7 linked regions of the Homo sapiens genome follow. The protein of the gene in region 1 purifies or fractionates together with the protein of each later gene. This does not show direct contact. Each region holds a gene or a part of one and is shown in the gene's direction. Other genes may lie near its edges.

Evidence for each region.
Region 2: the proteins of TMEM72 (region 1) and DNAJC11 purify together in Homo sapiens (affinity purification with mass spectrometry; one large-scale study listed by BioGRID and IntAct). This does not show direct contact.
Region 3: the proteins of TMEM72 (region 1) and PTDSS2 purify together in Homo sapiens (affinity purification with mass spectrometry; one large-scale study listed by BioGRID and IntAct). This does not show direct contact.
Region 4: the proteins of TMEM72 (region 1) and DHRS7B purify together in Homo sapiens (affinity purification with mass spectrometry; one large-scale study listed by BioGRID and IntAct). This does not show direct contact.
Region 5: the proteins of TMEM72 (region 1) and SURF4 purify together in Homo sapiens (affinity purification with mass spectrometry; one large-scale study listed by BioGRID and IntAct). This does not show direct contact.
Region 6: the proteins of TMEM72 (region 1) and KDELR2 purify together in Homo sapiens (affinity purification with mass spectrometry; one large-scale study listed by BioGRID and IntAct). This does not show direct contact.
Region 7: the proteins of TMEM72 (region 1) and LCLAT1 purify together in Homo sapiens (affinity purification with mass spectrometry; one large-scale study listed by BioGRID and IntAct). This does not show direct contact.

The regions. Positions count from the first base shown.
Region 1 is NC_000010.11:44,921,337-44,924,836, forward strand, and holds part of TMEM72 (transmembrane protein 72), read left to right. Parts: intron 1-1,744; exon of another isoform or gene 1,745-1,890; intron 1,891-3,500.
Region 2 is NC_000001.11:6,635,817-6,639,316, reverse strand, and holds part of DNAJC11 (dnaJ homolog subfamily C member 11), read left to right. Parts: intron 1-952; coding exon 953-1,022; intron 1,023-1,812; coding exon 1,813-1,870; intron 1,871-1,976; coding exon 1,977-2,119; intron 2,120-3,070; coding exon 3,071-3,200; intron 3,201-3,500.
Region 3 is NC_000011.10:470,779-474,278, forward strand, and holds part of PTDSS2 (phosphatidylserine synthase 2), read left to right. Parts: intron 1-3,116; coding exon 3,117-3,199; intron 3,200-3,500. UniProt on the Homo sapiens protein: Catalyzes a base-exchange reaction in which the polar head group of phosphatidylethanolamine (PE) or phosphatidylcholine (PC) is replaced by L-serine. Catalyzes the conversion of phosphatatidylethanolamine and does not act on phosphatidylcholine.
Region 4 is NC_000017.11:21,175,464-21,178,963, forward strand, and holds part of DHRS7B (dehydrogenase/reductase SDR family member 7B), read left to right. Parts: intron 1-2,769; coding exon 2,770-2,879; intron 2,880-3,500.
Region 5 is NC_000009.12:133,369,561-133,373,060, reverse strand, and holds part of SURF4 (surfeit locus protein 4), read left to right. Parts: exon of another isoform or gene 1-2,139; coding exon of another isoform or gene 2,140-2,185; intron 2,186-3,500. UniProt on the Homo sapiens protein: Endoplasmic reticulum cargo receptor that mediates the export of lipoproteins by recruiting cargos into COPII vesicles to facilitate their secretion.
Region 6 is NC_000007.14:6,470,653-6,474,152, reverse strand, and holds part of KDELR2 (ER lumen protein-retaining receptor 2), read left to right. Parts: intron 1-3,500. UniProt on the Homo sapiens protein: Membrane receptor that binds the K-D-E-L sequence motif in the C-terminal part of endoplasmic reticulum resident proteins and maintains their localization in that compartment by participating to their vesicle-mediated recycling back from the Golgi.
Region 7 is NC_000002.12:30,453,746-30,457,245, forward strand, and holds part of LCLAT1 (lysocardiolipin acyltransferase 1), read left to right. Parts: intron 1-3,500. UniProt on the Homo sapiens protein: Exhibits acyl-CoA:lysocardiolipin acyltransferase (ALCAT) activity; catalyzes the reacylation of lyso-cardiolipin to cardiolipin (CL), a key step in CL remodeling.

The DNA.
Region 1 (3,500 bases):
GGGAGGGATGGAAGGAGTCAAAGGCCACTAATGGCCGTGTCAAGCAGTGCTGTTCAGTGTTCCCTTGCCCCTCCACCTGGGCAGGAAAGACAGCACAGCCGGACTGAAGCACATCTCAGGGCGATTATTTCTTGTAGAGAATTTGGTGTCATGAGGCTCTGATTCTGCGGGTAGCAGGGCCTTTGTCCCATTGTTTGTCTCCATTGATTGGCTCCTGATCATTGATCAGCTAATCCAAAAATCAGCTCTTCAGTCCCTGGTCCCAGCTCAGGGTAATGCCCTGGGGGTATCTGTTCCAGTGAGTTGCTGATTCAGGCCAACCACTTCCACACTGGACTAGCACCCTGTGAAGGCAGAGCTTCCAAGACACCAGCCCCACTGCCCTGTGAGAAGTATGGAAGGCCAGAGCGCAGGCTAAATTCCAAGAGGAGCTAGAAGCCCTCAGACTCTGGGCCTCCCAAATCTCTAGATGCCAGGGCCAGAGCTACCACTCTCAGGGCCCACGAAGGGCCTACACTGCGCCTGAGGGAGGGAGTACCACCTTGGGCTTAGACTGAAGGCCACATTAAATTACAATGAGGGCCCCCTTAATTTTAAGAGGAGCACCTCCTTCATTGTAGAACACCTCCTTAATTTAATGGCAAATATCTTCTTAGTCTTAGGGAGAACACCTCCTTAATGAATGAGCACCTCTGTAATTTTAGGAGGTGTGCCTCCCTAATTTTGAGCCCTGGTGTCCTTCTGGGCCCACTCTGCTCCTAGTTATCCGGGTGCCATAACTTCTTTGTGTTTAACAGAGAGCCCCGCCTAAATCTGAAACCTGGCAGAAACCTAAGGTCCAATTCCACAAAACAAGGAGTGGGCTGTCCTCATCCACAGGTTGAAGTGAGGCCTTTGAGAGGGCGGGGGCCCACCTGTGCAGTCTCCGGGAACAGACGCTCAGCAGACTGGAGAGGAGCTCCTTCTTACCTGTGACAATCCCATTCTTCATTCAAGCCCCCACTAAATTTCAGGCCACACTTCATGTTCACCTCCTGCCAATTCTGGAGAACAGTCCCCTGGAAAAAAAACTTTTGGGAAACTCCAGGCCCTGTGTGAAAACACTTTGGGGTCCTATATCTATGTCATGTGGAACTGTGATACCTTCCAAAAATATTTTGTTCCCAGTACAGTCCAGTTAGCACACCAGGCTAGGAGCTTCCACAGCCAGTCCCAACATGGCTCTCTGGGGTGAGTGTTGGATACGGTTCACAAAATTCCTGCAGCAAGGAATCTCACTTCTTGCTTTCTTTACTTTTTCTACTGGGAATGTTTGCAAAATGCAACTGTGGGAGGGACCTGCTTTGGATGATACAGGATTCTCCTCCACAGATCCTCTATGAAGTCTTAAGTTATAAAACCACCAATAGGATTCCATGACCCAGTGGAAGTCCCCAGACACCATCTGTATTCCTAGGAGCCTGAATCTCCAAGGCTATGGGGCAGGTGCTGCAGGACCCAGAAATGCTTACTCCTGAGGAGTCACAATATAATGTTTACTCTAAGGCGTCAGGCCAGACACAGAGACTTCTATGCCAAAAACCTCAGGTGGCTAGATGACTGAATTAGCTGCTTTTCCAGTTAACCTTGCATGGCTGCATAACAGCCCACTCTAAAACGTAGTGATGTAAGGCTACAATCATTTGATTATACTCAAAACTTTGTGATTCGGAAATTCTGGCAGAACTCAGTGGAGGCGGCTCACCTCTACTCCATGATAACTGGGGCCACAGATGGGGTCACAGGTAGGGTGGCTGGCATGGCTCACGTGGCTGAGGTGGCTCATCTGGTGCTTTGGTTCTGATTGTTGTCTGGGTCCATCACTTCCAGTCTATGTCACATCTGCTGGAGCTGGAATGTCAAAGATAACTTCTTCCATCATTTGTCCTGTGCAATGCTGAACCAGCTGGGGCTGTTGTGCCTCTCTCTCTCTCTCTTTTTCTCTCTCTCTCTCTCTCTCTCTTTCTCTTCCTTTCTCTCTTTCTCTCTCTCACTCTCATTTCTCCCTCTCACTCTTATTTCTCCCTCTCTCTTTTTACAAGTCTCTCTACAAGGCTGGCTTGGGCTTCCTCACAATATGTCGGTCTCACTCCTCAGGGATTAGCAGGTGTGTCTTCACAGCAAAACCATTCTTAGCCAATTTTCCTGAGAGATGGCAGCCAGCACATCGCTGAGAAAACTGGGAGACCTTAGAGTTGGCAGTTCCCACTTGGGAGATGTGCAGAGGAAACAAGACGTATGGAGAGGGCCTACTGTCTACATGGCGTGTGGTGGCACCTGAGTGAGGGGCAACAGGGCTGACATGCCCAGGAAGCTTCCAATCCCAGACACCTCCTGGCCAGCCCACACCTCTGCCCCCCTACTGCCCAGATAAAGTCCAAACATCAACATGCAATGGCAGGGCATGCCTTCTGCTTTATGCCTGGGAAGCCTCCTTCTCTGGGTCCCCAGACAGAACAGACCCTCCACTCTTCTGGGCCTCTATGCCAAGCGCCCTGCTGTGCCACTGGACAGTAAAGCCACCTGCACCACACCACCAGGAGCCACAGCCAGAACTGTGCTTCAAGCCCAAGTCAACAAAGAAACTAGCAGATACCCTGTGCTGGGAGAGGGAGTGGCCAGGAGCACCTGGAGCTGGTCTCTGTCCCTCAGCCACCACCAAATATCACTGAAGTCTCTCACCATCTGCACGGGGTCAGGGAGCTTTCTGAAATACCAATCTAAACACGAGTCCCTTCTGCTCACGCTGCAGAGCCCAATATTTAAGAACCCCACAGTCGCCTTGATCCACATGCACTGCCCATTGCCCCCGACTGTGCCCCTGCTTCTGCTGTTAGGGGCCCCCACACCCTGCAGTGCCTGGCCCCTCCATCTGCACAGGTCTATTCCTGCTGCTTTCCTAGTCCACTCTACCTTCATCGTTATTCATCTTCCCTGATAGTCCCACGAGTGGCCCCTCCTGTCTGGCCCCAGAGCTCCTGGGTGAGTCCCTCGTCCAGCTTGGGTTACTGCCCTCGCTGAATGCACTTTTCTCAGTCCACATCACATCTCTCCTGCTGGACTAAGCATACCACAGCCATGAGCCCAGTGCCTGGCCCAACCGGTAACCACAGAAGACCAGGTGGGCCTCGGAGAAGCGGCCAGGAGCCGCCCCCCAAGGAGGGTGGGCCTGCCGCTCCCAGCAGAGCTGCCTGAACATTGAGACCAGAGGCAAACAGAGCAGGGGACAGAGGAGGGACTCGGTGCGAGTCCGTGTTGTTTCAACCTGGCATGCTCTGCATCCAGGAACACGAACCCCAAAAGTGGGAGGACTGAGCAGAAAGCGGTGACCCGTTGGCCTGGATATCAAAGGGCTTTACAGCCTCCCATGAGCGCCCCACTGATCCTCTTCCGCCTTGGGTAAATTGAGGAGCCATACTCCTGGCTCCCCACACTCTCCTCCTCCCGCCAGGTGGCATTCC
Region 2 (3,500 bases), on another chromosome or scaffold:
TAAACCATGGCCTCAAGAAAGAAGAAGTTTTCCTTTCTCCTTTCCCAGCGCTGAGTTTAAGAGGAATGCGTTCTGGATCCGTATGTGAGGGGCCTGCGTTAACTAGAGTCTTGAAAGTCACAGAAACACAACGTTTTTGCAGTTTCTTAGATAATCCATTGGGGCATGCCGTGAAACCTAAATTATTAGTGCAAGCATCTCTACAGAAAACTGAGAGCTGGTATAGATTTGTTACTTTATAATATCTCATTTAGTAAAGCATTGCACTTAGAGAATCTCAGATAAAGGAATGAATCTCCTCTTCTGGGCCCGTCTGGCCTTTGGACTCAGAATCCTAATTCCCTAGGAGGCTTGAGGCTTAGAACAAGACATGTGCTGGCCCAGCCTTCTCTCAGAAGGGAGGACAGGCATATGCTGACCCCAAGGCCCATACTTTGTTACAGGAAAGCGGATCTGTGTGTCTAAAGTGGTATTAGTTGTTCCTACCAAAAGTGTTATTTAACAACTCACGCCTGTAACCCTAGCACTTCGGGAGGCCGAGACAGTAGGATCACTTGAGCCCAGGAGTTCGAGACTAGCCTGGGCAATATAGTGAGACCCCCATCTCTATCTTAAAATTAAAATTAAAAAAATAATAATCCCACAAGGTTGGTGGGATCTCCTGAAATTCTCCTGTGGTGGGGTCTTCTTTCCAAAGAGACTGACAGTCGGTGTCCCGTCAGCTTGGTGAGGAGGTGGGGCAGAGCCATCTAAGGATAAAATGAAAGCTGCCAGCCTGTGACTAACAGACTTGCCTGAGACTGTCGTGGGAATATTTTTTAAAGTTCTACAACTGAACTCCAGTAAGATCACAGACTGTTTGCTGGGCTCGGGTCCAGCACGGGAGGGGCTGTGTTGGCTGGAAGCTGGGCAGCGCCGCGCTAACGTGGGGCTTGTGTTCCTCTCGCGTAAGGGAATTGGAGAAGCAGAGGGAAAGCGCCGCCACCGATGTGCTGCAGAAGAAGCAAGAGGCGGAGTCCGCTGTGAGTGCTGCCCCACCGTTCCCAAGCGAGGGCTGTAGGGGACACACTCCACACCCCACATGTTGGTCTCAGGGCCTTAGAGGTCAGACTTCTCTTCTCCAACAACTTGGCTCTCCACTTAGTCTTTATTGTGGGATGCGACACTGGGCTCTGCAGTCCCTGCCCTGAAGATAATTACCCTCCAAAGGCCTAACAAGGGCTTTTTTAAAGTGGTGAGTATTGGCCTCTTTTTCTTCCCTCTGAGTGTTCTGCCTTTTACTGAGCAGGAGGGAGCAGGCTTCCTGGGTATGTGGCGAGCATACTGCCAGGTGGCCATGGGCCGTGTGCGCGGCCTGGCGAGCACATGCCTGTCTGAGGGGGCGGCACAGCTATGCCCAGCAGAATGGCACCACAGGAGAACACAGGTCCTTTCTCAAGAGGAGCTGGGATTCCAGCTTCTCCTGTGAAATCTCTTTATTTTTAAAGCTGACAACGCATTGTTTTTTTATTGGGTCAACAAATCCCACCCACGCATTAATGATCCCTAGAAAGGGAGCTCCCACCGGTGGCCACCGGAGGGTCATGCCGTTTCAGGTGCTTCTCACCTTCTGACCCAGAGCTGCCTGCCCTAGGTCTAGGAGTTTCAGAGTGAGCCACTCGGGTAGCAGAGCTGTCAGGGTGCCCACTCCCTTCCTTTCCAGGCCCTGAGCAAGTATGTTGACGTGGACAAGACTGCCTGCCTGTGGCCCTCTCACCAGAGGTGGAACAGGCCTGGCAGGGCCCTGACTGTGTCATCCTTGTTCTCTGGCAGGTCCGGCTGATGCAGGAATCTGTCCGAAGGATAATTGAGGCAGAAGAGTCCAGAATGGGTGAGAACATGTGTCCTCTCTTGGTCCAGGGTGGGCGCTGGGGGTCTCTAAGCCACACAAGGAGGTGCCTGGAGGAGGCCTTCCTCTACTCGGAGTCTGTCCTTAGGCCTCATCATCGTCAATGCCTGGTACGGGAAGTTTGTCAATGACAAGAGCAGGAAGAGCGAGAAGGTGAAGGTGATTGACGTGACTGTGCCCCTGCAGTGCCTGGTGAAGGACTCGAAGCTCATCCTCACGGAGGCCTCCAAGGTACAGCAGCACCAGCCACCACATGCTATGTGCTCACAGATTTGAACAGGCTGGGCGCGGTGACTCAGGCCTATAATCCTAGCACTTTGGAAGGCCAAGGTGGGCGGATTGCTTGAGCCCAGGAGTTCAAGATCAGCCTAGGCAACATGGCAAAACCCTATCTCTACAAAAAAGAGAAAAAATCAGCTGGGCATGGTGACACACACCTGTTGTCCCAGCTGTTCGGGAGGCTGAAGCGGAAGGATTGGTTGAGCCCAGGAGGTTGAGGCTACAGTGAGCTGTGATTGTGCCACTGCACTCCAGCCTGGGTGACAGAGCAAGACCCTGTCTCAAAACAAACAAACAAACAGTGGTGTGAAGAATAGGTTCAGTCTGACAAGGACAGCCTGGCCCCTTAAAGTGGGATCTTTGCCGTCATCAGCATCTACTGTGTGGGATGCTGCCCAGCTCCTGAGTAGTACCCACGTTGGAGCTATTCTCTTCATTCAGTCATTTCTTTCACCACTCAGTAAGGATTTACTGAGCCCCTGGTGTGTGCCAGTCACACCAGCAAACAGAACACACGCCTGCCTTCATGGCATTTGATTCTGTTTATTTTTGCCTCATTCCAGAAAGATCATGAGGTCACTTGTAACATGTGTGAGTCTTGCCTCTGGGGCCTGGGGCATGGACCATACAGAAGGATGAAAATGCAGGTTAGCTCAGGCCAGAGAGTTCCTGGCACCCTAGAAGTCATCTGGTGGCCCTGTCTTAGTGTGAGGATAGGGCCTTTATTAAGAAGCGAGTCTTGGCAACTTTTTCAAATTCTTGTTTCTTTTTCTTCATGCCCCAAAGTTTGCATCTCCCCAGGGAATGTCAGAGCCTGTGCACACTGCCCCTCCGGTGGTAGTGAGGAGGAGTGCTGGTCTTAGACCGTCTGGAGTATTGAGAGTAGCAATTTGTTTGTTACAGGCTGGGCTGCCTGGCTTTTATGACCCGTGTGTGGGGGAAGAGAAGAACCTGAAAGTGCTCTATCAGTTCCGGGGCGTCCTGCATCAGGTGATGGTGCTGGACAGTGAGGCCCTCCGGATACCAAAGCAGTGTGAGTAGCCGTCCCTTCGCAGTCACCAGCTAACGGGGGCGGGGACCTCGAAGCGGCTGCTCAGTGTGTGGGCTGCCAGCCACCTTCCACCTTCCTCAGCTGCCCACCTGGGAGCAGAGACGCCAACTAGCCCTTGACCCATGATTCACTCAGAGCCCATGATTTGTGCCCTAAAAGGGGGGCTGGGGCCCTTTCACAGGTAGAATTAGAGTGAGCGCGTTGGAAACTGCGGCTTGAGTGGCGGGGGATGAAAGCAGACCTCTACGTTCCAGCAGCAGTTGATTTTCAGCAGCGGGTGCT
Region 3 (3,500 bases), on another chromosome or scaffold:
GGGGTTTCACCATGTTGGTCAGGCTGGTCTCGAACTCCTGACCTTGTGATCCGCCTGCCTCAGCCTCCCAAAGTGCTGGGATTACAGGCGTGAGCCACCGCACCCAGCCAGCACCGGCTTATTAATGGTGAGATGTTAATGGGAAAACTGGGCCTGTGAGATATGGGAGCTTTTACTATTTTTACAATAATTCTGTAAATCTAAAACCATTCTAAAATTAAAAATTTATTTTTAAAATGCAATATATTTGTTTTCCTTTTAAAGCACTTCCCTCATTCTTACCCAACGGGACACACCTTCTCAAGTACTTAAGTAATTCTTTTTTTTTTTTTTTTTTGAGACTGAGTCTTGCTGTCACCCAGGCTGGAGTGCAGTGGCGCGATCTCAGCTCACTGCAACCTCTACCTCCCAGATTCAAGTGATTCTCCTACTTCAGCCTCCCGAGTAGCTGGGATTACAGGCGTCTGCCACCACACCTGGCTAATTTCTTATATTTTTAGTAGAGACAGGAGTTTCATGTCGGCCAGGCTGGTCTCGAACTCCTGACCTTTAATGATCCACCTACCTCAGCCTCCCAAAGTGCTAAGATTACAGGTGTGAACCACTGTGCCCGGCAAGTAATTCTTATGAACAAATTAGCCTTATAAAGTTGTCATAAACATTATGTGATGTGTGGCCAGGTTAGAGTCCTGTGTGACCCGGTCTGAGCTGGCCTCTGGGCAGCATGCCGTGTGGGGGCTGCCACAAGCTGATTCAGGGAGCACCGGCCTGGGGTGACGCACGCCTGTCGGGCGGAGGGCGGCCTGGGGTGACACGGATGGTGGCCTGGGATGACACGCGCCTGTCAGGCGGAGGGCGGCCTGGGGTGACACGCACCTGTCTGGTGGATGGCGGCCTGGGGTGACGCGCGCCTGTCGGGCGGATGGTGGCCTGGGGTGACGTGGATGGCGGCCTGGGGTGACGCAGATGGTGGCCTGGGGTGACGCGGATGGCGGCCTGGGGTGACGCAGATGGTGGCCTGGGGTGACGTGGATGGCGGCCTGGGGTGACGCGGATGGTGGCCTGGGGTGACGCGGATGGTGGCCTGGGGTGACGCGCACCTGTCTGGTGGATGGCGGCCTGGGGTGACGCGCACCTGTCGGGCAGATGGTGGCCTGGGGTGACGTGGATGGCGGCCTGGGGTGATGCAGATGGCGGCCTGGGGTGACGCGGATGGCGGCCTGGGGTGACGCGGATGGCGGCCTGGGGTGATGCGCGCCTGTCGGGCGGATGGTGGCCTGGGGTAACGCGGATGGCGGCCTGGGGTGACACAGATGGTAGCCTGGGGTGACGCGGATGGCGGCCTGGGGTGACGTGCGCCTGCACCGGGAGCAGCTTCCCTTGGCCAGTGCCCATGTTCCTCTTTTCATTTTTATCTTTTCTGGGGAGGGTAGGGGGACGTTTTACTGTCTTTCCACTGAATGTTATGACCCTCCCCACGCCCCTTGGAGGCACAGCTGAGGTGGGGCCTATGTCTGGCTCCAGGGGGCCCTGAAAGGTACTTTTTACACCTCCCACCCCTCAGCACTGAGAGACCTCGGGAGGGGTACCGGTGACAGGGACGCGGGCCCCACCTTGCTGAACCCAGCAGCGAGGGCATCTCTGCCTCTGTCCCTGGAGGCTGACAGCGGTAGTGTGGGAGCTGGGGCCTGGGTGGAGACCGGGTCAGAAACTCAGGTTTCGCCTGGGTGGGCCATGAATGTCCTGCCGAGGGTGAGACCCTCAGGGCTCTGGGTGGAGAGCAGCACCTGCCCAGAAGCAGTAGACCCTTGTCCCGGCTGCACCAGGGGCCAGCGACCTTGTGCCCTCCTCCATCCTGCAAGCCTCGGGCGGTGCTTGGCCTCACCTGCCTCTGTCTACTCAGGACTTTGAGGCCAGGCACTCCTGCAGGCAGAGAGGGGAATTTCTGAGACTGAAGTTGTTACTGGGTATTTTTTAACAGCGCTGTCTTAAAAAATAGATAGCGTGTCTCTGTGGCCCCGTCTATTCTTGCGGCCACACGAACGTGCGTGTGTGTGTGCAGCTTCCCTCACGGCAGCCAAAACCCAGAGGCCGCCCAGCGTGCGAACACGCCAAGGTGTGACTGTCGGCACGGCACTGCCGAGCCGTGGGAGGGACTGGGTGGTGCAGCGGCCAGTGGATCTCAGACCCTGAGCTGAGCACGACTGGAGAGGATGGGTGCATCCGAGCGTCTGCAGAGCACAGAGCGCGTCCGCAGAGCGGGTCCACACCTTGGGTGCAGCGAGCGGATGTGAGCAGTGTGCCTGTGACCAGGGCTGTCTGCACATCCGCCGGCCTAAGCTGCTGCTCACCGAAACCCACTGGGACTCTGGCTGAGGCCGGCCCCAAGGAGCTTTGCCGAGGAGGGAGCACCTTGCCCCTGCCCAGAGCGGTCCCTCGCATCCTCCTTCCCGTGAACCTGCATCTTTGGTTGCAGTTACAGCTCTCACGCTTCCATCTTATGAATCACAGGAGTCCCGTTGGTTTTGGATGAGTTGACACCAAAAAGACACAGGAGCTCTCTAGAGACACTTCCTGGGGGTCCTGCCGCGTTGGAGCAGGGAGGCAGTAGCTCCTGACGCCTTCCCTCCTACGTGGGCTTTGTGATCACTGATGGTCACATGCGGGGCATTCGGTGGCCTCTGTGTAGAGCCAGTGTCTTCCTGATGTGACACTGGGAACCACCAGCAGCCCAAGCACAGGGACCTTCTCCTGGCCACTGGGCGGGCTGCAAATGTGAGGGCGAATGTTGGGTGCAGGGTGGTGGAGGTAGCTGGGCCTTCCCTGCCGCGGAGGAGGCAAATGTGAGCGCGAATGTCCAGCCCAGGGTGGTGGAGGTAGCTGGGCCTTCCCTGCCGCGGAGGCGGCAAATGTGAGGGCGAATGTCCGGCCCAGGGTGGTGGAGGTAGCTGGGCTTTCCCCGCGGCGGAGTCGCCCAGCTCTGCCCGAGGCCCCTTCCTCCCGCCCCAGCATCAGGGGCTGTTCCACAATGGGTGTCTGGGGGTCCCTGCAGCCTCCCACCTCCCTCCTGGGAGAAGCCTGCACACACTGAGGGGCTGTTTGTTCTTTATTTGCAGAGGTATTGTGGCCAGTATTTTGGTTTTCTTATGTTTTGGAGTCACACAAGCTAAAGACGGGCCATTTTCCAGACCTCATCCAGGTAACTTGCCATTTCCTTTTCCGTGTGCCCCTGTGGCATTTCTGTTCTGAGCGGCCACTCTGTGTCTGTGCTGCTGGGTGTGAGTGTCCTGTCCTCCCCTCCGCCTGGCCCCTCCCCGAGGCCTCCGAGGCCACTTCCCACATGGACAAGGGCGTGGGGTTCTGAGCTGGCCGTGTGCTCCTCCTCCAACCACCGAGGGTCTCTCCAGGCCTTCTCTGGCCCTTTCACTCTTCCCTGTCCAGGGCTCTCCAGCCCTTCTCTTCCTGCTTCTGCCTCCTCTTTCCACAGACCAGAGTGGCCG
Region 4 (3,500 bases), on another chromosome or scaffold:
CATGAACCAGGAGCTAGGGTGCCACCTAATCACCTGGGCCTCTAAGATTCGGTCTGGAACCAAGTCAGTGGCTCACTGGTGTCAGGTCAGGGTCAGCCAGGGGCCAAGGTATCCTGTGCAGATCTGCTGGTGAGCACTTAAGGGAGACTATGCCTCAGGTGAGGACAGGAGTGCCTCTTTAAACCAGCATGTGGCCAGGTGCAGTGGCTCATGCCTGTAATCCCAGCACTTTTGGAGGCCCAGGCAGGAGGATCGCTTGAGTTCAGGAGTTCTAGAGCAGCCTGGGCAACATGGCGAAACCTCATCTCTACAAAAGTTAGCCAAGCATGGTGGCATGTGCCTGTAGTCCCGGCAACTTGGAAGCCTGAGGTGGAGGCTCGCTTGAGCCTGGGAGGTTGAGGCTGCAGAGAGCCATGATGACACTACTGCATTCTAGCCTGGGTGCAGAGCGAGACCCTGTATCAAAAAAAAAAAAAAAAAAAGTAAAAAACTATGTTTCAGTTTTCATCATCAGTTTTTAGAACATTATTATTTACACATATTTTTATTTTTTGAGACAGGTCTTGCTCTGTCACCCAGGCTGGAGTACAGTGGTGTGATCATGGCTCACTTGACTTCCCAGGCTCAAGGGATCCTCCCACCTTAGCCTCCTGAGTAGCTGGGACTACAGGCATGCGCCACCACACCTGGCTAATTTTTTATTTTTTGTAGAGACAAGATTCCTATGTTTCCCAGGCTGGTCTCAAACTTCTGGGCTCAAGCGATCCTTCTGCCTCAGCTTCCCATAATGCTGAGATTACAGGCATGAGCCACTATGCCCGGCCAGAACATTTTTACAAAGTAGTTCAGAAATATGGCCAGGCACAGTGGCTCATGCCTGTAATCTCAGCATTTTGGGAAGTCATGGCAGGAAGATCGCTTGAGCCCAGGAATTTGACACCAGCCTGGGCAACATGGCAAAATCTCCATCTCTACAAAAATACAAAAATTAGCCAGCCATGGTGGCGAGTATCTGTGGTCCCACCTACTCTGCAGGCTGAGGTGGAAGGATCACTGGAACCCAGGAGTTCGAGGCTACAGTGAACTATAATTGTGCCACTGCACTCCAGCCTGAGCAACAGAGTAAGACCCTGTCTCTAAAAAAAATATTTTTAATAAATAGAAATACAAAAATGACAATTGACACCGCTGTAGTGCTGTTTATCAAACACTGTGGTAAGAGATTACCTACCTTAACTCATTCAATCTCACGGTCACACCCCGAGGGACTGAATGAGTTAAGGTAGGTAGTCTCTTACTACCGTGTTTGATAGATAAAAAGCATCCTAAATAAGAGGAAAGTCAGAAACAAAGAGGTTCTAACTTACTGGAGTTGGAAGTCTAGCTCAAGTCCACTCTCTTGGCTGCTGGGCTGTCCTGCTTTTCATAAGCTGTATGTACATTTTTGGGGCACTGAACATTTACATAGGATATGTTGCAGGGGAGGGTAAGCAAGAAGCAACGACGCCACCCTCTGCCTCCTCTCCTCCCATCACTCCGTTTCCTTTCTGACTCCTCATAGAGTAGTCCTCCACCCCCAGTTCTCATGGTTTACCCTGCTGCGTCCAGGGGGTTTCTCGTCAGGCCCTCCTGCTTAGCCACAGGAGAATTACCTGTGACCCTTGCTGGGCCCCCCACTCAAGGCTGATCACGGCCTTCCCTGGGATTTGATCAGAGCTGGGAAGAGACAAGACAAAACTGTGCATGTGAGCTCTGGGGCCTGCCCGCGTGTGAGAGCACCCAGGCACGTGAGAGCACCCGGGCAGCCAGCACTTGGGTCCCTCCTAGGTTTCGGCCATCCGGCTCTCCTCTTCATTCTTGAACTTCCCCACAATCCCTCTGGCAAATTCTCTTTTTGCTTTGCCCCAGTGTGAGTTTAGTTTCTGTTTCTTGCCACCAAAAGAATATAGAGCACGTGTCTGACTAGCTTTGGACTGTCCCTGCTGTGGTCGTAGTTGAAGTCCGCATCGATTGTTACCTGGAATAGTGTGGTGGGCTTGGTGGAGCCTGCTTTCCTCCAGTGTCCCCACTCCCTCCCGCCCAGCAGGACTGAGCCTTTTCAAAGGCAGGCACCCTTAATAGTCCTGCGTGTGGCAGGTGCTTGCGTGCACTGACTTGACCCCTCCCCAGCCAGTGAGGTTGTTAGACCCTCCACCTTCTGTCCCATCTCTATCTGCCTGTGGCCCTTCAGGCACTCTGCTCCCTCTGCCTCAAGCACTCCCTGGGAAACAGCCCATCAGATCTGGGAAGGGCCTCGGTCCCCTGCCCCAGCTTTTCTACAGGACTGTGTGAGTATTTCCAGGAGAGCTGTGCCTGGGTAGTGCCACCACACAGTCTTGGCAGGGCACAGCACCATAATAGCTGGCCCTCATTGACCTTGCCAATCAGGACAAGACCCTGCCTGAGTGACCTTGGTGAGCTCCCTCAGCTGTGAAGATAGGTGATGCTCACAGCTGATCCAGGTGAACAGGAACATCATGGGGTGTTCTGAGCATGATACTTAACACATCTGTCCACCTCGGCCCTCCTTTCTCTTTGCCCTGTGGATGTTTGTAGCACTGGGCGTGAGCCCGGCATTGGGCCCTAGCTCCCAGCTTCATGCTGGGCCACACAGCAGGGGCCAACACAGACCTGTGAAGGGTGTGAAGCAGCAAACAGCAACGCTGGGTGAATTTAAACTGAACGGCACTGAGGAAGAATGGCTGTCAAGGCTCTTTTCTCTTCCCTTAGAATGTGCAAAAGTCTTCTATGCTGCGGGTGCTAAACTGGTGCTCTGTGGCCGGAATGGTGGGGCCCTAGAAGAGCTCATCAGAGAACTCACCGCTTCTCATGCCACCAAGGTGAGCCAGGGGCGTGCTTTCCATGGGGAAGGAGTGCAGGCCGTCTTCTGTAGGCACTGAGGAGATAGTGGCCCACTCCTGGACTGCTGAGCTGTAGGACATCCATGCGTCACACTGTCCCAGGGAAGGCAGCAGGTCTCCATAGCGAACCGGGCCCACTGCATAGGGAGAGAGAACTGTCCAGTGGTTTACATCCTGATGCCCCTACTGGCTAGCACTGTGAGTTGAGAAAGTTCTCTTTTCTCCCTTTCCTTTTACCTGGCTAAGCTCTACTTACTGGGTGGGAGTGGGGGATGGTGATAACTTTAAAAGGTGTTTTTTTTTTTTTTTTTGGGACACGGAGTCTCGCTCTGTCACCCAGGCTGGAGTGCAATGGCCCAATCTCGGTTCACTGCAATCTCTGCCCCCTGGGTTCAAGCGATTCTTCCGCCTCAGCCTCCTGAGTAGCTGGGATTACAGGTGCACACCACCACACTCAGCTGATTTTTGTATTTTTTGTAGAGACGTGGTTTCACCATATTGACCAGGCTGGACTCCTGATCTCAGATGATCTGCCCGCCTCAGCCTCCCAAAGTGCTGGGATTACAGGCGTGAGCCACCAGTACAGCCCTTGTTTTATTT
Region 5 (3,500 bases), on another chromosome or scaffold:
ACCCAAGTGGGTTAGGACCATATCTGTAAGGCACCATATCTGTAAGGCAGCGCAGGCTGCCGCCGTCAGATGATCTCCTTAAGAGTCCGTCTAGGTGGTGGCAGAGCATGGCTGTGGGAGCTTCCATGCCCTTTTGTGGGCAGCTTGGGAGGGCAGCTACTTGTACTCGCCCAAACCCCAATCAGACAGATGCAGGCAAGTAAACAGGGTTCGAAGTCAAAATATGGCTTCTTGTGGACAGAATCTGACCAAGCCCAGGTGGGGCTTTGTTTCTCTTTATTCACATAGTACTTAAAGCTGCCAGACCAGGCTTTTACATGAAAATGACCTAATTTGAAGCCGATAGAGGATTACCATGGAAGTCACTGATCAGATAAAGTGACACATCCATTTTTTCACATCTTCAGAAAACAAGAGCAAAACTGAAGTGACAAGATTTGACCAGAAAGTGTGGGCTGCTGAAAGCAAGACCTAAGTAAGCTTAGTTTCCCAGGCCCAGTGTCTTCCAGTATTATGACAATGACATTAAGTCTTTCACTGGGCCGGGTCCATGATAGACATTCCTTTTGTGAACTTCTTGACTGTAGGAGGTTGGCCAGAGCGTCACCATCTTCAGATGGGCAGAGGGAGGTTGGCTGGCCGCACTGGCTTGTGGTGGCCTGGAGACTGAGTCCGCATCCTGTTACCCCAAAGGCTGGGTTCCTCACTGCTTGGTTGACTGATCTTTCCTTCTGGCCTGCAGAGGCTGGTCCACGGGGACGAGCAGTCTGGTTAGTTTCTGCTGGCAGGCTCCCCACAGTTGCATCTCTTGTCTCTCTGCCTCTGGCATCAAGCTGCTTGCTCTGGCAGCCAGGGACAGTGTCCTCTTGCTCCCAGGAGCCATGCTCTGTAGAAACTGCTGAGACGTGCTCTATGCAGGAGCTTGGCATTTGGAAGCCATGGGAAGGGTCCAGAAACTAATGAACTCAGCAATCCAAACTAATGTCCATGCCTGCAGCTGCTCCTCATTGCCTATTAGACACTCTGTAAAATGTAGCTTCTAAGCAGTTTATACCCATAAACAGCAATATTAGCACTTAATGGGTTCTGCCTGGTGGCTCATCACCAAGGTGACAGAAAAGCTGCATGGGGCCTTCCTCTCCAGTGTGACCTTTGGTGTTTTTAACCTGTCCTCAAGAGTGGCAGAGCTAGTCCTGGGCCCTAGGAGCTGGCCTCGGCCCTAGTTGAAGTGCTGGGGAAGCAAGGATAGGCCTGAGGACCCCTGAACTTGCAGGTGGCACAGGCACTGTGAGGGTCCCGATGAACACCATGCTGGTGACTGGTGTGGCAAAGTCCTGGTGACAGTGGCAGGCTCTGTCATACCCTGCCCTATATCATGAAGGAGTGGGGAGAGAAGGCAAAGAGGAGCTGACTCACTTTTCTTTGTGTGATGATCTTAACGGGAGGTTAAAACTCACTCTTCAGGGGAGTGCGGGCGAGGAGCAGAGGAGGTTGTGGTTAGCGGGGCTCCTCCCAGAACATGGGGCCCAGTCGTTCTCAGTTACGTCTTTCCTATAGTTGGGATTTTGATCACACAGTTTTTTAGTAAAGCCAGGCCATCATCTCCCACATTGGGCTGGCGACATCCTTTCTGGCCCTGCAGGGTGCAGTGTGAACCTATAGAGCAGCATGGGAGCGGGGCTCGGGGAAGTTCTGGAGCTGCAGTGAGCCAGTGAGCTCGAGCCAGCTCTGACAGGCTGATGTGAGGGAAGCCGCTGGGCCGCAGGTGCTTGTTTCTAGGATGTGTGGGACCTGAGTTGGGCTTTGAACAAGGCAGCCCCAGTCCTTGGTGATCAAGGAAATCTGACCTGCCTTTTTCGTCGATGTTCACATTCACCACGAATTTGCAAGCTGCTTTCCTCAATTTCTTTCTGTCCTGAGTGTGAAGAGAAAGTGGAGTTTTCTGTGTGGCGTGGGAGCTGCAGGTGGCTGTGACAGTGATCACTGGATGCCCAGGAAGTCATCTCAGGGTGGATATAATTAATTACGTTTCTAAAATCCCCTTCAGTCGTCTAAAATAACCACCCCTTTGAGAGAAATATCAGTCTTCCTGTTAAGCCCCTCAGATGCTGTCACTGCTTATGAACCATATCCTGCTTGATGGCGCGGTTCTCGGAGAGACTTAATGAGAAGCTTGGCCACAGAGGTGAGCTAACTGTCATCTTCTTCCTGCAGCCTGCCAGGTCAACAGCCACCTCTGGCTCTGCTGTCGCAGTTCTCTAATGGGGGGGAGGGGGACTGTCACAAGTTTTATGTGCTCGCCGTGTTTACACAGGTCACCTGTGTGCTGGCTACCAGCAATGGCCTTAGTGCCTGCAGTGCGGCTGCTCTTGTCTGTCCTGGGGTGCTGTGTGTCCTGCCTGTGTTGAGGGCTCTTCTCTGCTGTGCTGAGGGGACACTGGCTCTGGGACGTGTTCTAGAGTGGCATGACATGGTTCCAGTGGCCAAGTTGAAGTAGTTGTGACCAACATGCATGTAGGAAATAAGGTTAATGTTGGGCCTTGTCTTTAAACGTGGCTTTTTCAGTGTTCAGTCCAAACAGATGCTCATTAAATGGTGGCCAGTTTAGAGGAGACTGCATCAGCCTGACTTCAGCCTTCAGTGTGGACCAGGCTTGCCTTTGAAAACCAGGACAGCCAAGCAGTAGGTGTGCTCAGTTCAGAAGGCAGTACCTAGATTTTTGCATATTTTTCCCCAAAGCCAAGAGCTGTGTCTGTTTCGTCACCATGTTTGCGCAGGGAAGGAGGTGTGAATTGCCTGTCCCACCTTCTCTCTCTTTTTTGCTCTTTAATCCTCTTGACCCAGACACTCAAATTAAGAGTCGCAGACTCATTCAAAGAGACTTTTAAACACTGCCTCAATCTCGTGGGCTGTGCACGTAGATGAGCATGTTAAATGCAGGTCCTGCAACTGGGGGAGGCTTAGACCGCAGCCCATGGCTGGGCTGGTTTGCTCATCTCAGGCCAGTGAGTGGCTCACAGCTCTCATTTTAGAAGCAAGTCAGAACACCTCTGGTGTCTGTCTTGGGTATGGATTGCAGTCTACCTCTCTGCTGCTGTTGGGGTCCACGCCCCACACCCACACCCTGCCCTGGGAGTCCCACCACGGCTCCGTCTCATCTCAGAGGTCTGGACAGCCTCCTGTTGAGCTCTTCCTTCCCAGTGGTTGCTTTTCCCCAGGTTCAGATGAGATAAAGGCTTGTGTCCTTGCTGGGGCTTCCCAGCTGGGCCACGATGTGAGGCCATTCCTTGAGAGCAGTGGCACATCGTGTGCCACGGTGGTGTGCTTTCTCTCTTCCATGGAATATGGGTGATTACACTGTTGCTGGGCATTTAGAGAGCAACGGGGCCATGAGGCAGAACCTGGGGAGGGTGTGTGGCGTCACCTTTCCCACCACCCAGTGTGATGCAGGTTGCGTCACACTGTGCACATGGGCATCTTGTGCTGGTTCTCTGCATTGG
Region 6 (3,500 bases), on another chromosome or scaffold:
ATCTACAGTGCACAGGTCTATGGACACTTAATTTATGTCAGCTGTGTATTTTTAATTAAAATGCTCCAAAAATAATGTCTTAATATGCTGTTCTTGACTTTAAAACTTTCAGACCACCTTGTATATATAACTGGGACTAAACGAGCTATCAGTAAGCATACATTTTTGGTTTCAAAACAGTAGTTAATTAAAATACTTTGAAGTTAGAACTTTTTTATTTTAGGTTCCTTAAGTATGATAAATCTAAAGCTCTTGATAACTCTGTAAGTAAGAGCGGTAACTATTATATTTTCAAGCCGTGGGAAATTACAGAGTCCCCAGAGAAATCCAGCAAGTTGGTACATAACAAGGAACGAAAGCAGGACTCCTAGTTGCAGTGTCTCATTTCGCTGCTGTGTGAGGAACTGTCTATAGGCTTCTATCTTTTTTCTTTGCCACTGAGTCAGTTTTACTTAAACTGTTGTGTGTGTGTCATTTTTATTACATTTGCCGTGCTTAAATGATCTCTATACCATCATTTACTTAGTAACGTATTTTTTTAAACCTTTCAACTTGTCCTAATTATTAGTATCTATAACACCTTTGTTGTCTTTCTTATATTTTTTCTAATTCACATTAAAACTAGTGTATAACTATTAAAATACAAAATGTTTGCACACCACCTAACACTTTGTGTAGCACTGGTGGCACACACCCCACACTGGGGGAAGTTGTGGACTACGTGAGCTTCAGTTCTTTCGCACAGTGTTGAATTCATGCTTGTGAACACCTACAGAGCTGGGAACTGAGGATGCGGCAGAAAATAAGCAGAAGTCTCTAGGCTGGTGTGGGAGAGTACACAGATCATGGCAGTACAAATGACTGCGATTTATGATGGGTGCCACAAAGGAAAAGTATAAGAGTTGCGAACCTATGGATATAAAAAACATGAAACAGGCCCAGTAGCTCCCGCCTGTAATCCCAGCACTTTGGGAGGCCAAGGTGGGTGGATTGCTTGAGCCAAGGAATCCGAGACCAGCCTGAGCAACATAGTTAGACCCCTGTCTCTAAAAAAAAAAAAAAAAAAAAAATACAAAAATTAGCCAGGCATGGTGGCATACTCCTGTAGTCCCAACTACTCAGGAGGGTAAGGTGGTAGGATCGCTTGAGCCCTGGAGGTTGAAGCTGCAGTGAGCCGTAATTGCACCACTGCCCTCCAGCCTGGCAGCCTGGGTGACAGAGCAGGATCCTGTCTGAAAAAAAAAAAAAAAAAAAAGAACAGGGGCTCTCAGGATATGTAATAGGAGTCTGATTTCTTTCTTTCTTTCCTTCTTTCTACAAATACTGAGCACCTGTGCACCAGGCACTATTCTAGGCCATTTGGTTATTAGCATACCCAAGGAAGTAATATTTCAACTGAATCCTATTGGTATGGCACCTAAACAACCTCCCCCCAACATTTTGTGTTCAAGAGCATTTTCATAAGCACTGTTGAAAGGAGACAAAGCAGTATGTGAGTCTGGTCTTTACTAAAAAGCAAATTTGAGTCACTTATAATGGATTCTTCATTACCAAATGATGGGAACCTAGTATTCAGGAAATAATGAGCTTACTTAAAAATGGTTAGGTCCCCACTTGTCTAGGCAAGTTAAAACTGCAGGCATTAGAGGTGTGTGAGCAAGAATCCTCTCTCCCCCTCAGGATGCCCAGGTTTCAGAGGAATCCATGCTTGCTTGGTTGTAGTTTCTAAGCACGATGTCCTGAAAGTCTGGCGTGAGACCCGAGGTGCTCGTGTCTTTTTACTTTAACTTCTGTGTGCTGGTGAGAGGAGAGAAGCAGCTGTTCTTCTCCAGGTGCTGCTAAGGCCTTAGTGGAAATAACGCCCATCAAGTTTTTATTAATGTTGAGCTGGCCACAGTCTAGGTCCTGGTGAGAGGCCTCTCTGCTGTGAGCCTTGGCTAGATGCGCTGAGGGGGCTCAGTGCATGTGTAGATGGATGTGTGTCTTGTTTATGCATGTAGATTTTGTTTTGTATTTATTCACATACATGGTGAGGAGATCGAGACCATCCTGGCCAACATGGTGAAACCCCATCTCTACTAAAAATTAGCTGGGTGTGGCGGCATGCGCCTGTAATCTCAGCTACTGGGGAGGCTGAGGCAGGAGAATTGCTTGAACCCGGGAAGCGGAGGTTGCAGTGAGCCGAGATTGCTCCACTGCACTCCAGCCTGGTGACAGAGCAAGGCTCCGTTTCAAAAAAAAAAAAAAAGTTAAACTTACACTTAACATATGACCCAGCAGTCCCACCCCTAAGTACATACCCAAGAGAAGTGAAAACTTACATTCACACAAACACTTGTACGCAAATGTTCACAGCAGCTTTATCCACTGTCCTCCCAAATTAGAAACCACCTGTCCTTCAACTGGTGAGTGAATAAACAAACTGGTGCATCCATACAATGGACCACCAATGGACGCAGCTATAAAAAGGAACAAATTATTAACACTAGGCCCTCACTTAATGTCATTGGTAGGTTCTTGAAGTGAAACAACACACACTGCAACTTGAAGTGAAACAACATACACTGAAGCCAGTTTTACCATAGGCTAATTGACATGAGTAAGAGTTAAGTTCCTACAGCATATTTCCGGTCCCCAAAACACCACCAGACTTTTAAATAAAGACCCAAAACAGGCCGGGTGCTGTGGCTCACGCCTGTAATCCCAGCACTTTGGGAAGCCGAGGCAGGCAGATCACCTGAGGTCAAGAGTTCGAGACCAGCCTGACCAACATGGAAACCCCGTCTCTACTACAAATATAAAAATTAGCTGGGCATGGTGGCAGGCGCTTGTAATCCCAGCTACTTGGGAGGTTGAGGCAGGAGAATCGCTTGAACCTGGGAGGCGGAGGTTGCAGTGAGCCGAGATTGTGCCACTGCACTCCAGCCTGGGCGACAGAGCGAGACTCCATCTCAAAAAAAAAAAAAAAAAAAAAAACCGAAACAAATGTGAGCTATACATTTATTTATTTATTTATTTATTTATTTTTTATTTTTTTTGAGACAGAGTCAGTCTGTCACCCAGGCTGGAGTGCAGTGGCGAGATCTCGGCACACTGCAAGCTCCGCCTCCTGGGTTCACACCATTCTCCTGCCTCAGCCTCCTGAGTAGCTGGAACTATAGGCACCCGCCACCACGCCCGGCTAATTTTTTGTATTTTTTTTAGTAGAGATAGGGTTTCACCATGTTAGCCAGGATGGTCTCGATCTCCTGACCTCATGATCCGCCTGCCTCGGCCTCCCAGAGTGCTAGGATTACAGGCGTGAGCCACCATGCCCAGCCAACATGAGCTATACATTTAAGAAAGATTAATAAAAGCAACATAATTATTTATCCAGTTTTTGGTGAATCCGTGCATGATGGTGGTCATAGTGGTGGCGGATTAAATCAAGAAGTATATGTTTACAAACAAAAATTATAAGGAGTACCTCCTACTACCATAAAGTTCAAAAACAAACAATA
Region 7 (3,500 bases), on another chromosome or scaffold:
CATGACGGCTATGAAACTATTATGAAGACCGTAGGTAGTAATGGTGACCCTCTCTTTTAATAACGTGTGAGTGCCAGGTGTATACTGAGTTCTGTTCTAAGTGCTTTAAGTTTTTAACTCCTTTAACCCTCCCAGCTTCCACTGTGAAGTAAATACAAATACTGTTATTATCCTCATTTTACTTATGAGGAAACAGAAGCCCAAAGAAGGTACGGGGCATGGATTTGAACCTACGCAGTCTAGTTTCAGAGTCTGTGCTCTTAATTACTATGCTATAATGCCTGTTTTAATGTACTGTAAATTTAAAATATACTGTACTTGTGTGGCATTAAGTGTAAGGGATTATTTCAATGAGTATGCCTTGTATTACAAGTTATGTCCAAAGTTTCTGAATATCCATGCTGAATGTAACTTACGGTAGCTACTTAGGGTGAGTCTGTCTATAATGTGGGAGATTTAAATGAGACATCCTTTTTGCCTTTTCCCCTTTCATGTGTTATAATGATTGTTTTGATAGTCTTGCATGTTCCATTATATCATTTCAAAATTCAGTAAAATATATTACCAGGTTTATTGTTTGTGTTATAATCATACACATAATGAAATTTTATGATGTAGTGCTCAACCTGGACAGTGTGAATTACTGGGTTAACATACTTCTTAATGAGAGTAACTGCAGATTTAAACTTAGGTTTTTTTATTTTTTATTTTTATTTTTTAATAGAGACAGGGTCTCACTCTGTTGCCCAGACTGGATTGCAGTAGCCTGATCACAGCTCACTGTAACCTTGAATGCATGGACTCAAGTGATCCTCCCATCTCAAGCTTCCCAGAGTAGCTGGTACTACAGGCATGTGCCACCGCGTCTGGCTAATTTTTTTTTTTTTTTGTAGAGATATTGTTGTGTTGCCTGGGCTGGTCCCGAACTCCTGAGCTCAAGTGATTCTCCCTCTTCGACCTCCCAAAGTGCTGTGATTACAGGCGTGAGCCACTGCACGTGGCCCTAGGTTGTTTACATTTTTAACATGGTGATTCATTAAGACCAATTGATTAAATTAAAGGAAGAATTATGTTTGCTTTGTTCACTAAGAATGGGAAGGCAGTGGAGAAGCAGGATGGAAATAATCTAGAGGACTCCAAGGAGTGCCAGAGTGACCTTATTTTGTTGAATTTATTTATGGTAGTAATGAAACCTATATAATTTAGCTTCTCTTTCCTTCAGAGAAGAATATACTAGAAGTCGGAGTTACTCAAGATTGAGTCTTCTTTTGCTAGGCTACTTGATAAACAGTTCTTGTCTGTTGAGTAGGCTAATCTTCAGGGAACTGAGTATACAGTGGATATAATTGGATCCAGTGGATATAATTGGATATAATTTCTAAAGCCGTATTTATTTCTCTTTTTATCTATACTTTCTTTAACTGTAAAAAAATTTAGGAGTGTTACGTTCTCATTTTGAATGAGGAACTCTGAAATTGTATCTGATTTTCTCTTTTGTATTTGTACTTCAGACTAGTCAAATATGTATGCCTTTTGCATACATATTTACTTGGAGATGGGGAGATATTTATACTAGCTTCCTCTGGCTGCCATAACAAACTACTGCAGACATCGTGACTTAAAATGACAGGCATTTATTTCTCAGCGTTCTGGAGGCCAGAATTCTGAAATCATTATCAGTCAGCCAAGATCACGGTGTCAGAGGGCCACACCACCTCTGGAAGATCTAGGGGAGAATCTGCTCCTTGCCTCTTCTAGCTTCTGGTGGCTGATGGCATTCCTTGTTTTATGGCTACATCATTAATCTCTCCCTCTATGGTCACGTTATGGCCTTCCTTCTCCACTTCTGTCTGCAGTTAGATCTTTGTCTTAGGCTGGGTGTGGTGGCTCACGCCTGTAATCCCAGGACTCTGGGAGCCTGAAACCATCCTCTGGGAGGATTGCTTCATCCCAGAAGTTGAAGACCAGCCTGGGAACACAGGGAGGCCCTGACTCTATAAAAAAAAATTAAAAAGTTAGCCAGATGTGGTGGCATGTGCCTATAGTCCTAGCTACTTGGGAGGCTGCGGCAGGAGGATCACTTGAGCCTGGGAGGTTGAGGCTGCAGTGAGCTGTGATCATGCCACTCAACTCCAGCCTGGGTGACGGAGTGAGACCCTATATCAAAAAAAAAAAAAAAAAAAAAAAAAAAATTGGAAGTGCTCCCTACGCTTCTGTTTTCTGGAAGAGATTGTGTGAATTGATCTTAATTCTTTAAACATTGGTAGAATTCTTTAATGAAATGTTCTGGGCCAGATTTCTTTTTCGAAGGCTTTATTCAATTTCTTTAACAGTTATTAGGGCTATTCACATAATCCATTTAATTTTGGGTGAGTTGTGGTAGTTTGTGCTTTTGAGGAACTGATCCATTGACACACAAAGTGGGTGTCCTCATTACTACTGGGCAAGTGTGGGAGTGTCAGCCCCTCTTTAGGACTCTACTGACACCACTGGGAGGGGATGGCCTTCTTACCCCTGGGCGGAGGTGAAAGTTCTGACTCTCTGCTAGGCCTCCTCTGATACCACGCCAGTGGGGATGAGAAGGAGTGTCTCATTACTGCCAGGTGGGAGGAGGAATCCAGGCTCTCCAGGTGGTCTCCACAGATACTCCCTGGCAGGGGAAGGGGGTCTTATTACCACCTGGCAGGGAAGTCTAGACTTCTCCAATATCACCCCTGAAAGGATAAGGGGTAGAGACACCTGGGAGCCTGAACAACATTGCAGCCTTGTAAGGGTGGAAACTTAGGCTCCCTACATGGCTTTTGCTGTTGTGGGTGGGGGTGGGCCACGGTTTTTTTCTGTGATATTGGCTGGAGGGCATGTTGTTTATTGCTCATTTCTTTGGCTTAGGAGAGCAGGGGTTTGTTTTTTGTTTTTTTGTTTTTGTTTTTAAGCTGGTTGTCTGTGGTATACGATGAGGCAAAAAGAAAACCCAGGGAACTCACCACCATATTTTCCATGGGTCCCAAGGTCCCTACCTGGTTTGCCTTATCTGTATCTTCAGAGTCCAGAGTCTTCCCATATTTGTTTACCTATAATGGCCAGGATTTTTGGTTGTACTTAGCTAGAGCAGTAGGAAAAACTACATTTACTTGATCTTGCTGGAAGCGAAAGTTGGACAGGGATTACTTCTTTATGGAAGAAAATACAGGGTGGAAATTGAGATGCATGAATTAGCCAGTAAGACACTGAAGGAAGCTAGTTTTGGGTTAGTTACTTGGAAGTGACAGCTTAACTATGTCTTTATTTCTCCAGAGAGAATTCTGTGGGTCATTGCTCAGTAAAACCAAACTCTCTTTAGTTTTAGATTTCTTAAGAGGTTTGACAGTATAGTGAATTACTTTATTTCTGCATTGAGATATAAATTAATAATATAATTTCTGGCTTAGTACCTGGTAGAGAAAAATTTATCTTTGTGAAAGATTAGTTTTATGGAGGGGATTAACTCCAGTTTTCTTTAG